2 separate regions of the Homo sapiens genome follow, and region 1 is linked to region 2. The links come from fine-mapping of genetic effects on gene expression. A gene starts in region 2. The other region holds a variant in brackets. All regions are shown on one strand. Distances are from middle to middle.

The links.
Region 1: its variant is fine-mapped to the expression of ABCC4 in whole blood (INTERVAL, PIP above 0.99).

Annotation. Positions count from the first base shown.
Region 1 is chr13:95,243,604-95,248,972 of GRCh38, forward strand. It overlaps ABCC4 (ATP binding cassette subfamily C member 4 (PEL blood group)), which reads right to left. Exons shown (of 31, transcript NM_005845.5): 2 at 4,040-4,150; 3 at 3,372-3,492. Among named protein-coding and RNA genes, the nearest start is that of SNORD13G, 36 kb to the left of the region's middle. RefSeq lists an enhancer at 1,370-1,449. The variant C/T (reference allele first, on the strand shown) is at 2,654.
Region 2 is chr13:95,299,309-95,304,677 of GRCh38, forward strand. It overlaps ABCC4 (ATP binding cassette subfamily C member 4 (PEL blood group)), which reads right to left and starts at 2,143. Exons shown (of 31, transcript NM_005845.5): 1 at 1,933-2,143. The coding sequence starts at 2,006. LOC102724149 (a long non-coding RNA gene) reads left to right here and starts at 1,643. Exons shown (of 3, transcript XR_429273.4): 1 at 1,643-1,955; 2 at 2,638-3,018. RefSeq lists enhancers at 426-485, 2,088-2,862 and silencers at 1,679-2,318, 2,349-2,408, 2,589-2,648.

The DNA of each region.
Region 1 (5,369 bases), 56 kb before region 2:
CAGCCAGGCACAGTGGCTCACACCTGTAATCCCATTAATTTGGGAGGGCGAGGTGGGCCGATGGCTTGAGCTCAGGAGTTCTAGACCGGCCCGGACAACATGGTAAAACCTCATCTCTACTAAAAATACAAAAAATAAGCCAGGCATGGTGCATGCCTATAGTCACAGCTACTCAGGAGGCTGAGGTGGGAGGATTGCTTGAGCCCAGGGAGATGGAGGTTGCAGTGAGCTGAGATCACACCACTGCACTCCAGCCTGAGTGACAGAGTGAGACCCCACCTCAGACGAAAACATAAAAAAAAAAAAAGAGTTCGTGGTCAACCTGAATGTACCTTGGTGCTCTGACCTGCCCAGCACCCCAGCCACTCTCTAGCATGTCACCTGACTTTCCGGCACCAGGACACCTAGGAACCTAGGGTAATTTATAATCCCCAATCTGATTTCCCACAGCCATGCCCCACTGTTCCAGGGAGCTCTTAGCATCTGACTTATCCCTAGGCCAAGTTCAAGAAGCATGTGCTGGATACTCTGAAGACAGAGTTCTCAAGACACCTTTACGACAGTCTGGAGATGGTTAGGTCCCTAAGTCAGCGCTCCTGAGACTGAATCTGGGCTCTGTCATTTACACTTTGTGTGGCCCTAGGCACATTATATAACTACATGGCACCCAGTGTCCTCTTCCCAAAAGTAGGGTTAAAAGAATGCCTTCTGACTGAGCATGGTGATTCCTGCCTATAATCCCAGCACTTTGAGAGGCCAAGGTGGGAGGATCATTTGAGCCCAGGAGTTCAAGACCAACCTGGGCAACATAGTGAAACAAAAATACAAAAATTAACCAGGCATGGTGGCGTGCACCTGTGGTCCTAGCTACTTGGGAGGACTGCTTGAGCCCAGTAGGCCAAAGCTGCAGTGAGCCAAGATAGCACCACTGCACTCCAGCCTGGCAACAGAGTGAGACCCTATCTCAAAAAACAAAATAAAATAAAATAACATGAAAGAAAGAAAGAAAGAAAGAAAGAAAGAAAGAAAGAAAGAAAGAAAGAAAGAAAGAAAGAAAGAAAGAAAGAAATCATAGCAGTTCCTGGTACATAGTATTTTTCAAGTACTCACTGTCAGTATTATTACAACTATTGCTACTATCACTGCTGCTGCTACTACTACTACTGAGTACCAACCACTACTAATCCTGCTGCTGCTTCTACTAGCACTGCTGCTGCTAAGCAGTACTGAGCATGAGCCCCCATATTTGCCAGGTCCTCCACTCCCTACTTTTCTGCCATGACTGCCCAATAACCACCCCGCTAAAAGACCAGCTCTCCACCAACTGTACCCATATTAAAGCTCCCCTCGATCCGGGCCCCTTCCCACATGCCCACCAGCAGTAAAGATTACCATGCTCCTTGCACCAGAGTGGGGCCTGTCCTCAAGTCTCAGGAGAAATTCACGCTTCTACAGCCTCTACTTCTGTGCCTGCTTCTCCCAAAAGCTTACCCAAATCTCACTGTAGTCCAGTCACCATCTGTGGGTTAGAGACCCCACCCCAAGTGGCTGGCAGCCCATGACAGCATGGACAGCCCTGAGCATGACAAGCTCAGTTCCTTCTAAATCATCCTGTTTTCAATTTCATAAGCAGCTGGTGACAAAGGGAAACTAGAGAAATGGAAGTAGCTGAGGGAGGCATGCCTCGAAACCTATGTGAGGCCATTGATTCCCACTACACCTAACCAGACACCTGGCATGAGCCTTAGACACTTACAGAGGCTCCATGGCTACCAGACAACTTCTCTGAGGTTGCACAGCCAAACTGGGCCAGGAAATCCTGCACACACTGGCCACATTGACACCGACTTGTCATTCTATTTCTTTCCAACTGAAACTGATCGGGGCCATGTGGAAACACTATCGCTGGGACACCCCAGCACAGGTTGAAGAGGGGCTGGGAGAACCTGAGGGGCTCCTAGCCCTCTTCCACCCTCAAGTCAGTTCCACCGGTTATTCTGCATGTCCACCCCATCTGCCACAAAGCCACAGTAGCATGCAGGCAGGGCGGGTACCCTCTCAAAGGTGGCATTCACCATCTGGCACCCTGGCCAAAACACCTTTGTCACCAATGAGACCATTCATCTCCCAGGACCGTCCAGTCCCCTGTTGTCTGACAGATTCCTCTGGTGTAGGGCAGAGCTCACCTACCTGCCTCCCACTGCCCACCGTGCCCTCCACAACAAAAAGCATGTTCAACAGGAGCAAACCCCCCCACATACAAACCAACCCCCTCCCCCCACCCACCTCATTCCCAACAAAATGCACCGTGACAACTCCCCATCCTGCATTTAAAGCCACCCTTTTGTAACAACAGCAACATCCACCCCTCTAACTTTAATGGACCACTGACATCCCTAAGGTAGCACAGAGGACACAAGTCACCCAGCAGGACCCTCTGCATCTCCTCTAGCAGGCCAAAGACCAGAACGGACAAGCTACCTGGCAGTGTGCCTAGGCAGAACACTGTCTTTCTGCAGATCTCAAGAGAGGCCCTTCGGGGTAACAGAGGTTATTGCCCTTCTGGCTGTCTTTGATTTTTCATGGAATGTCCATTTATACATTCTCTGCAGGGCCAGGCACCAAGACTCTACCTTCCAACCAGCAATCCACT[C/T]CGACAACAAGGAAGACACACCGGATGGGTGTGATGAATCCCCTTGGGTGCACAGTCCTCGGACCTTCTTCCCAGAGGGGATTTTGGCTCCCAGCACCTGGGCCCACTGGGAGGGGGTAGCTCTTGGGTGCTTCAGCCAGCTCCAGCCTCTGGGGCACCACCGCCAGCCCAGGTGCAAGGCCCTCAGCTCTGTTTCCCCGAGAGGGGAGAGGTGACAATACCTCTCCAGAAGAGCAATTATCAGATTTGGCTTGGTGAACAATTATTTGTTGAGCACCTGTAAAATGTCTTACATTATTCTGGGCTCCGATCCAAAATCACTTCCTCTAAACCACAGGGCACGCACTCCTCAAGGCTGTAGGATCCTCTTTTGACCAGGAGTGACTCTTAGCATTTAAAACATTTACCGAGCACCAACATTGTCCTACCATAGAATAAAATACTCTTCTTCCATGACACTGCATTTTAATTGGTTACAAGAAAAACAATAATGACCTTGAACTTCAGTCACTTAAGTATTCACCTGGATAAATACGCTCACTGAACTAACTACCTAATACTTCCTAGACATGTTTAATCCTTAGACCTTAAAATACCTTCAAACCCCATCTGGCCACTTCTCCCTTCTGTTCCCCCATCCATTACAGCACCAGTCAATGGCGAGCACATTTACTCTATGTGTCCTGAAAAACAATTCATGGTATGTAAAAGCTTTTACCTCAATTAACGTAAAAATTCCCAAAACTAAATAAGATTTCCAGTAACACTTTATGATTGCTCTTGTTAAAGAAGGCTTCTGTGCGTCATTCTCAGCTCTTAAAACTTCTTTATCCCAGAACCTACAATGAGGAAAAAGCTTCGTAAATAAGAGTGAACCCTGCCACAATATAAAACAGGGGAGATGGCAGAGTGACAGGTATGCATTTAAGACAGGGCATTTTGTGACGATTTCATAAATGCTACTAATTGCTCCCAGGGCTCCTGAAGGTTATGTGTGGTACAGAATCTGGAGCATCAGAAAAACAGGCCTTGAGGGGAAGTCTGGGGAAACAAGTTACTGCCAAGCTTTACTGGATTGAAGCCCCATCAGTAGCACAGATAAGCCAGACAACCTCCTCCAACCACAACACTTCCACCTAGAGGGACAGACCTCAGGCATCTCGGGCCTTTGGTGCTGGCTCCCCTGACCTCTACGGAGGCACAGGCAACAGGAGTTTCCCCCAGGCCACCATGGTAGGCTGAGCCTAGGGGCAGCCTGAGGAAGGTGACACATATTCACCTTAAGGGTAAACGGAGGCTCCAGACAGGACCCAGGAAGGCAAAACCCACTCCCCACACACAGACACCCACGCTTCCTTAATGCCCACTTTACTGCCTCCGACTTACCCTTGCAACTCCTCTCCAAGGTGCTGTGAGCGGTCTTCTGGCAGCACTGAATACATATCATCTTCCTCTAATCTCCGTTTATGGCCAATTTTAAACAAGGGATTGAGCCACCTGTTAACAAGAGAAAAGAGACATATATCCAGAATTACACATCCGTGTTTAAGTAGACTCCTACCTCCATGGGTTTTGCTTAAACTTACCTTTAAAATACATACAGCTATATATAGACAGACAGATATGAATATATAGAGCTAGAGAGAGAAAAGTTAACATGTGCACACACACACACACACACACAGTCCCTAGCTCTATCCACAGACAGGCCCCAGAAGCAATGACACACCAGTAGCTGAGAGCATGCTGGTGCCCAGATCTTGGTTTCCAAAACCATTATTATCTAAAAGGAACCAGAGCTTCCTGAAGAAATAGCTGATTCAAAGGCTGGGGCAGAAAAAGATGGCCCATGAGATACCATACGATAAGGAAACATTCAAGGAATCAAGAGGATGGGCCCAAAGAACAGAGGACCCAGCTTGACGGGGTCCCACTAGACAAGTCTGTGATAATGGAAGCATCCAAATAAATCATGACAGCAATGAATTCTAACCCACTGAATAACAAAAGAATCCACGAATCCTTACTGAGACATAAATGGGGTAAGAAGGAAAAACTCTCAGATAAAGAATGATGAGGTTAGAAAACATTTTCAATGGGAGCTAAAACCAGTCAGTGAAGGTTTGATGGGACATTTACATAATCCAAAATTATCTAGGTACAAATTATTTATTAGTTACGAAAGGACAAAATAGTAATCTTGCAGAGGACAGAAAGAACTTATTCAAATATTTTGAGATTCTTTTTACTAAAAAAAAAGAAAAATCAAAATGGTCATCCATTAGGAATCACTTAAATGATATTAACATTATTAATCATTAAATGATAATAATTAACATCATTAATCATTAAATGATAATAATTAACATGCACCAGGCATAGTGGCTCACACCTGTAACTCCAGAGCTTTGGGAGGCTGAGGAGGGAGAATGGCTTGAGCCCAGGAGTTTGAGACCAGCCTACACAACATAGTGAGATGCCCACTTCTACTAAAAACTTATAAAGAAAAAGGCTGGGCAGTGGCTCATGCCTGTAACCCCAGCACTTTAGGTGGCTGAGGTAGGCGGATCACTTGAGGCCAGAAGCTCGAGACCAGCCCGGCAAAACCCCATCTCTAGTAAGAAAATATAAAAATTAGCGAGGTGTGATGACACATGCCTGTAATCCCAGCTACTCGGGAAGCTGCGGCACAAGAATCACTTGAGCCTGGGAGGCA
Region 2 (5,369 bases):
GGAGACCATTTGTCTACCTCAAGTTATTATTTGCAGAAACCACACCCATATTCCTTCCTCCTCCACGTGCCCCTCTCCTTAAGAGAAAGGCCGCCAAACAACCAAGAGAAGTTCCTACACCCACTGAGTGTACCACAATCGAAACAAGAGTAAGCGACTCATCCTCTTGGAATCCCCTAGGTCAAGCTTGTCCAACCTGAGGCCCATGGGCTGCCAAATTCGTAAGCTTTCTTAAAACATCAGATTTTTTTTTGCGATTTTTTTTTAGCTCATCAGCTATCATTAGTGTTAGTGTATGATTAGTGTTAGTGTATTTTATGTATGGCCCAAGACAATTCTTCCAGTGTGGCCCAGGGAACCCAAAAAATTGGAGACCCCCACCCTAGGTTGTCCCATAATAAAAGGCAATATCAACATGTGGGAAAGATGAGGCGGCAGAGGTCAAGAAACAGAAGATCTAATAATCATCCAAGTGAGATTGAAGCCCTTCAAAGGTTCAGGCTTATGTAGTTAGCAGACGGAATTCCCCCACACACACCCGCCACTCCCCCAAGACGGAGTCTCACTCTGTCACCCAGGCTGGAGTACAGTGGGGCGATCTCAGCTCACTGCAACCTCCGCCTACTGGGTTCAAGCAATTCCCCTGCCTCAGCCTCCTGAGTAGCTGGGATTACAGGCGTGCTCCACCACACCCGGCTAATTTTTGTATTTTTAGTAGAGACGGGGTTTCACCATGTCAGCCAGGCTGGTCTCGAACTCCTGACCTCGTGATCCACCCACCTCTGCCTCCCAAAGTGCAGGGATACAGGCGTGAGCCACCGCGCCAGGCCAAGATGGAAATTTTAGTTACTACTGTCACCCGAGTCTTTCTCCGTTTGTTTCCTTGCACAAAATGGGTAGGGCTGTGGGCCCTCCCAGCTCAGGAGCCCTGGGGTGGTTTTAAGAAGGTAGAACTCCTGGTAGGAACCACCTGCATCAAGACCATGGATCACCTCTCTGAAGGTTAGCGATTCCAGGGACCCCACCTCCGAGCTGTCCTCCTACGTGGAAGTGAAAGTATTGGAAACAGGGGAAAGAAGCTGGTCAAAGACAGACTCCAGTCGTGGCGGTGCATGTCCCAGTTAAAAGCAAATCCTGGAAAATCTTGTTCAAGAACAGGGTCCCCATTCATAAATGAAAAATAATAATAGTGTTATTTTACCCACATGAAACTTGCCATAACTAGGTACCACGACCCACATGGACACACAGTGAGATTCCCACAAAGAGGCAAAAGGAGAGCCCTGGTCACTGAGACAAAAGATACAGAGACACCGGGACACAGAGAGGTACAACGGGACGTGGAGTTGGATCGAGCTGTCTCGTAAGGAATATCGGAAGGGGTGGGGACACTACTGGGAGATGGCATAGGTCCAGGACACTAATTAGGCTTTGGCTGAGATCAGATAAAGGAAACTGTTCGTAAGCTGCTTACTTAAAAAGAAAGGAAAAGGTGCGTTTGAGTTCAGGAGACTGCGAGTCCCAGAGCAGGAGGCGGGAGCCAGCGAAGGGTGGGCGTGTAAGGGGTGCAGTCGCTTCTCCCGCTGGGCAAGAGACTCCCCCTTTCGGCAGCCTGGGTTCCCCGCCTCCCCACCTCCTGCTCCTCCTCCCCCGAGCCCTAAGGGCCCGCAGGGCCTCCAGTAGCAAAGCCACTGGCCCCGCGTCCCCGCGTCCCCCTGCGCCGCGCCCCGGGGCGCAGGCAGGGACCACGCGGCCGGCGTGGGGGCGGCGCCACCCGCAGCAGAAAGCCCCGGCGTGGACCGCGTGGCGTAGGAAAGCGCTCCCCTCGCCCCCAGCCGCAGAGGGCTTGGGCAGCATCGGGCGCGGCCCCGGGAGAGTGCGTCCGCGGCGCCAGCGGCTGCAGGGTGACCTGTTTCGGGCGGGGACACTCACCAGAAGAACACGCGTGAGCAGAGGTTCGCGTCCTGCAGCGGGTTGGGCTTCACCTCCTGGTACACGGGCAGCATCTTGCCGGGCGGGGCGGGCGCGGGCCGGGGTCGCGCTGATCAGGCGGCGGTGGCCGCGGGCTCCGCTCCTGGACCTCAAGCAGGGATGCTGGGGCTCCGGCCGCCACGCCTGTCCGCTCGGCTGGAGCCTGTGAAGCAGCCGCTTCCGGGAGCCGGGCGCCGGCGGCACGCCCCGTCCCCGCCTCTCAGGCCCGCCGCCTCGGGGGCGCCCGCTACGCGCCGCCGCCTGGAGCCCGGGAGCTGCGCACCGCGTGCGAGCGCGGCCGGGACCGACGGGTGACGCGGCGGGAGGAGACGCGGCGGGAGGAGGCGAAGCTGGCGACGCCAAAGGGAGCCCAGAGCTACGCCCAGGGGTGAGGCGAGGGCCGCCTGCGCCGCTGGATGGAGAGGGTAGCAGAGCGCGCGGCAAGGAGGCCGGGTCCGGAGGTGCCCACGTGCACGAACCCGAGTGAAACTTTCCGAAATTCACTATCCGAGTCTAGGCGCCGACACAGAAGGTGGAGCAGGGAGGCGTCGGCTGTGCCCGCCCCTGCGCCGCAGAAACGCCCCCTCGGCTACGGGTTTGGGAAGACTGGGAGACAGCTGCCTCGTGCTCTAGCAGCCCGCCCCCTGGGCGCCTTTCCCTTCTCAGGACCAAACGACGGTGCCATGGGAGGCTCTTCAACCTGTGAGCCAAACATTTGACCTTGGACGACAGCAAAGTTTAGCCACAGATTATCCTTGTAGAGCTGCAAGACCTCAAGAAAGCCGGGTAACTCGAGAGTATGACCCAGATGAATTCGGGAGATGGATGAATGCTGTCGTCGATGGGGGCGGGCTTTAGGCATCTCACATGTTGCATGCTACGGTGGACCTCTGAGCTTTTTGCTGCCCCCTTAGATTGGGAAAGGAATATAAGAGGAAAGAGAGACTGCCTGATGATTTCTGTCGTCAAGCCCTAAAGCCTAACAGATAACAGTGGCAAACGACACGTGGGTTCCAGAATACCAGTGATGTTCATGTGCATTTCTGAGTGCGTAGCCTCACTAGTGTGTGTGTGTGTGTGTGTGTGTGGCAGTCTCACACACAGTGTCACGATTATGGCTCATTGCACCCTCGACCTCCCAGGGCTCAAGCAATCCTCCCAACTCAGTTTAAGTAGCTAGGACTACAGGCACCCGCCACCACACCCGGCTCATATTTTGTAATTTTTGTAGAGATGCAAAAATCAAAATCAAAGGCTCCAAGTTCAAATACTGATAATTTTTGAAGCCAAATGATTGTCATGGAGGTTTATTTTCTTCATATTTCATGCATGTTTGAGAATTTGGTTTTCTTTGTAATAAGATCATTTTATTGTTCCTTGATAATTTCTCACTTTGTTGCCCAGGCTGGTCTCAAACTCCTAGGCTCAAGTGATCCTCCCACCGTGGCCTCCCAAAGTGCTAGGATTACAGGCATGTACCACCACGCCCGACCAATTATCTCACTTTTAATTCTATCAGTGCCCCATTCAAGGTTATCCTTACTTTATAGATGAGGAAGGTGAAGCTGAAAGGCAGAACTTGTCCAGTCTTAGAGCCAAGAAAGGATAAAACATGATTTGCAATAAGCCTATGTCTAAGCATGGCCTGTCTCCCTGGTGGATGGCCAGTGTGCATGAGAAGTGCCCAGAATATGCTGGTTGAATGGCTGTAGGAATGAATGAACAAAATCTTGTTCCAAGCTTGTGTACTCCCACCTCTAAGTCTTCAGTCATTTCTGTGGCTACCTTAACAAGGTCAGCAGCTGCTCTTCATATCCACCCTGAATGAAAAAAAATGAAAGGCTCCAAGTTCATGGTGCTTGGAACAAGATCATTTTATTGTTCCTTGATAATTTCCCATGTATATTTGCTAAAATAGTATAGTTAATAGCTTTTAAAGAAAGCCTTACACAAACACATATTTAAAAGTCAAGCACAGGCTAGCCAGCATAGTGAGGCTCTGTCTCTACCAAAAGTTTTAAAAATTAGCCCAGGTGTGGTGGCGTACCCTTGTAGTCCCAGCTACTCGAGAGGCTGAGACAGGAGGATGGCTTTAGCCCAGGAGTTCCAGGCTACAAGGAGTTAAGAAGGTGCCCACTGGGCTGGGCACAATGGCTCACGCCTATAATCCTAGCACTCTGGGAGGCTGAGGCAGGTGAATCACCTGACGTCAGGAGTTCGAGACCAGCCTGGCCAACATGGTGAAACCCCATCTCTACTAAAAATACAAAAAATTATCTGGGTGTGGTGGTGGATGCCTGTAATCCCAGCTACTCAGGAACCTCAGGCAGAAGAATCACTTGAACCCAGGAGGCGGAGGTTGCAGTGAGCCGAGATCATCCCACTGCACTCCAGCTTGGCAACAAGAGTGAAACTCCGTCTCAAAAAAAAAAAGAAGGTGCCACTGCACTCCAGGCTGTACAAGCCCATAATCCCAGCACTTTGAGAGGTGGAGACAGGAGGATTGCTTTAGCCCGGGAGTTCTAGACCAGCCTGGGCAACATAGGGAGACCTCATCTCCACTAAAAATGTGAAAATTAGATGGGCATGGTGGAGTAAGTCTGTAGTCCCATGTAACCTGGAGGCTCAGGTGGGAGGATTGCTTGAGCCCAGGAGTTCTAGACCAGCCTGGGCAACAAAGGGAGACCTCATCTCTACTAAAAATGTAAAAATATGATGGGTGTGGTGGCGTGAGTCTGTAGTCCCAGCTGGAGGTTCAGGTGGGAGGATTGCTTAAGCCCAGGAGTTGGAGGCTACAGTAGGCTATGATCACACCACTGCCCTCCAGCCTGGGCTAAAGAGTGAGACTCTGTCTCAAAAAAAAAAAAAGTCAAGCACATAAGAATGGCAAAATATTGATAATTTTTGAAGCCAAATGATGTGTCATAGGGGTTTATTTTCTTACATTTCATGCATGTTTGAGAATGGTTTTCTTTTTGGAGATGGGCTCTCAGTATGTTGCCCAGGCTGGACTCAAGCTGCTGGGCCCAAGGGATCCTCCTGCCTCAACCCCTCCAAGTACCTGGGATTGTAGGCACTCGCCAGCATACCAGCTCATGTTTCAGAATTTCTGTCACAAAAAGGAACACAATATTTTAAGTTGACTACTGTGGGAAAGCTATGATCATTCAATAACCTACCTTTCTGATAGCTCTTTCTCAGATAATATAAGCTATAAACCAAAATAGTCAGCCTTCACCTGATTTACAGTGCCCTTTGAAACTTCCTAAGTTTTCTAGCCCAGTAAATGCTGAGCTACCAGTTCTACTTCCAAGCTAGAGAACCTGTTTACTAAAGTTAGAAGTCTAGTGACTTCCTCTGTCAGACTGTCCCAGAATGCTCTCCCTACCCCCAACAAC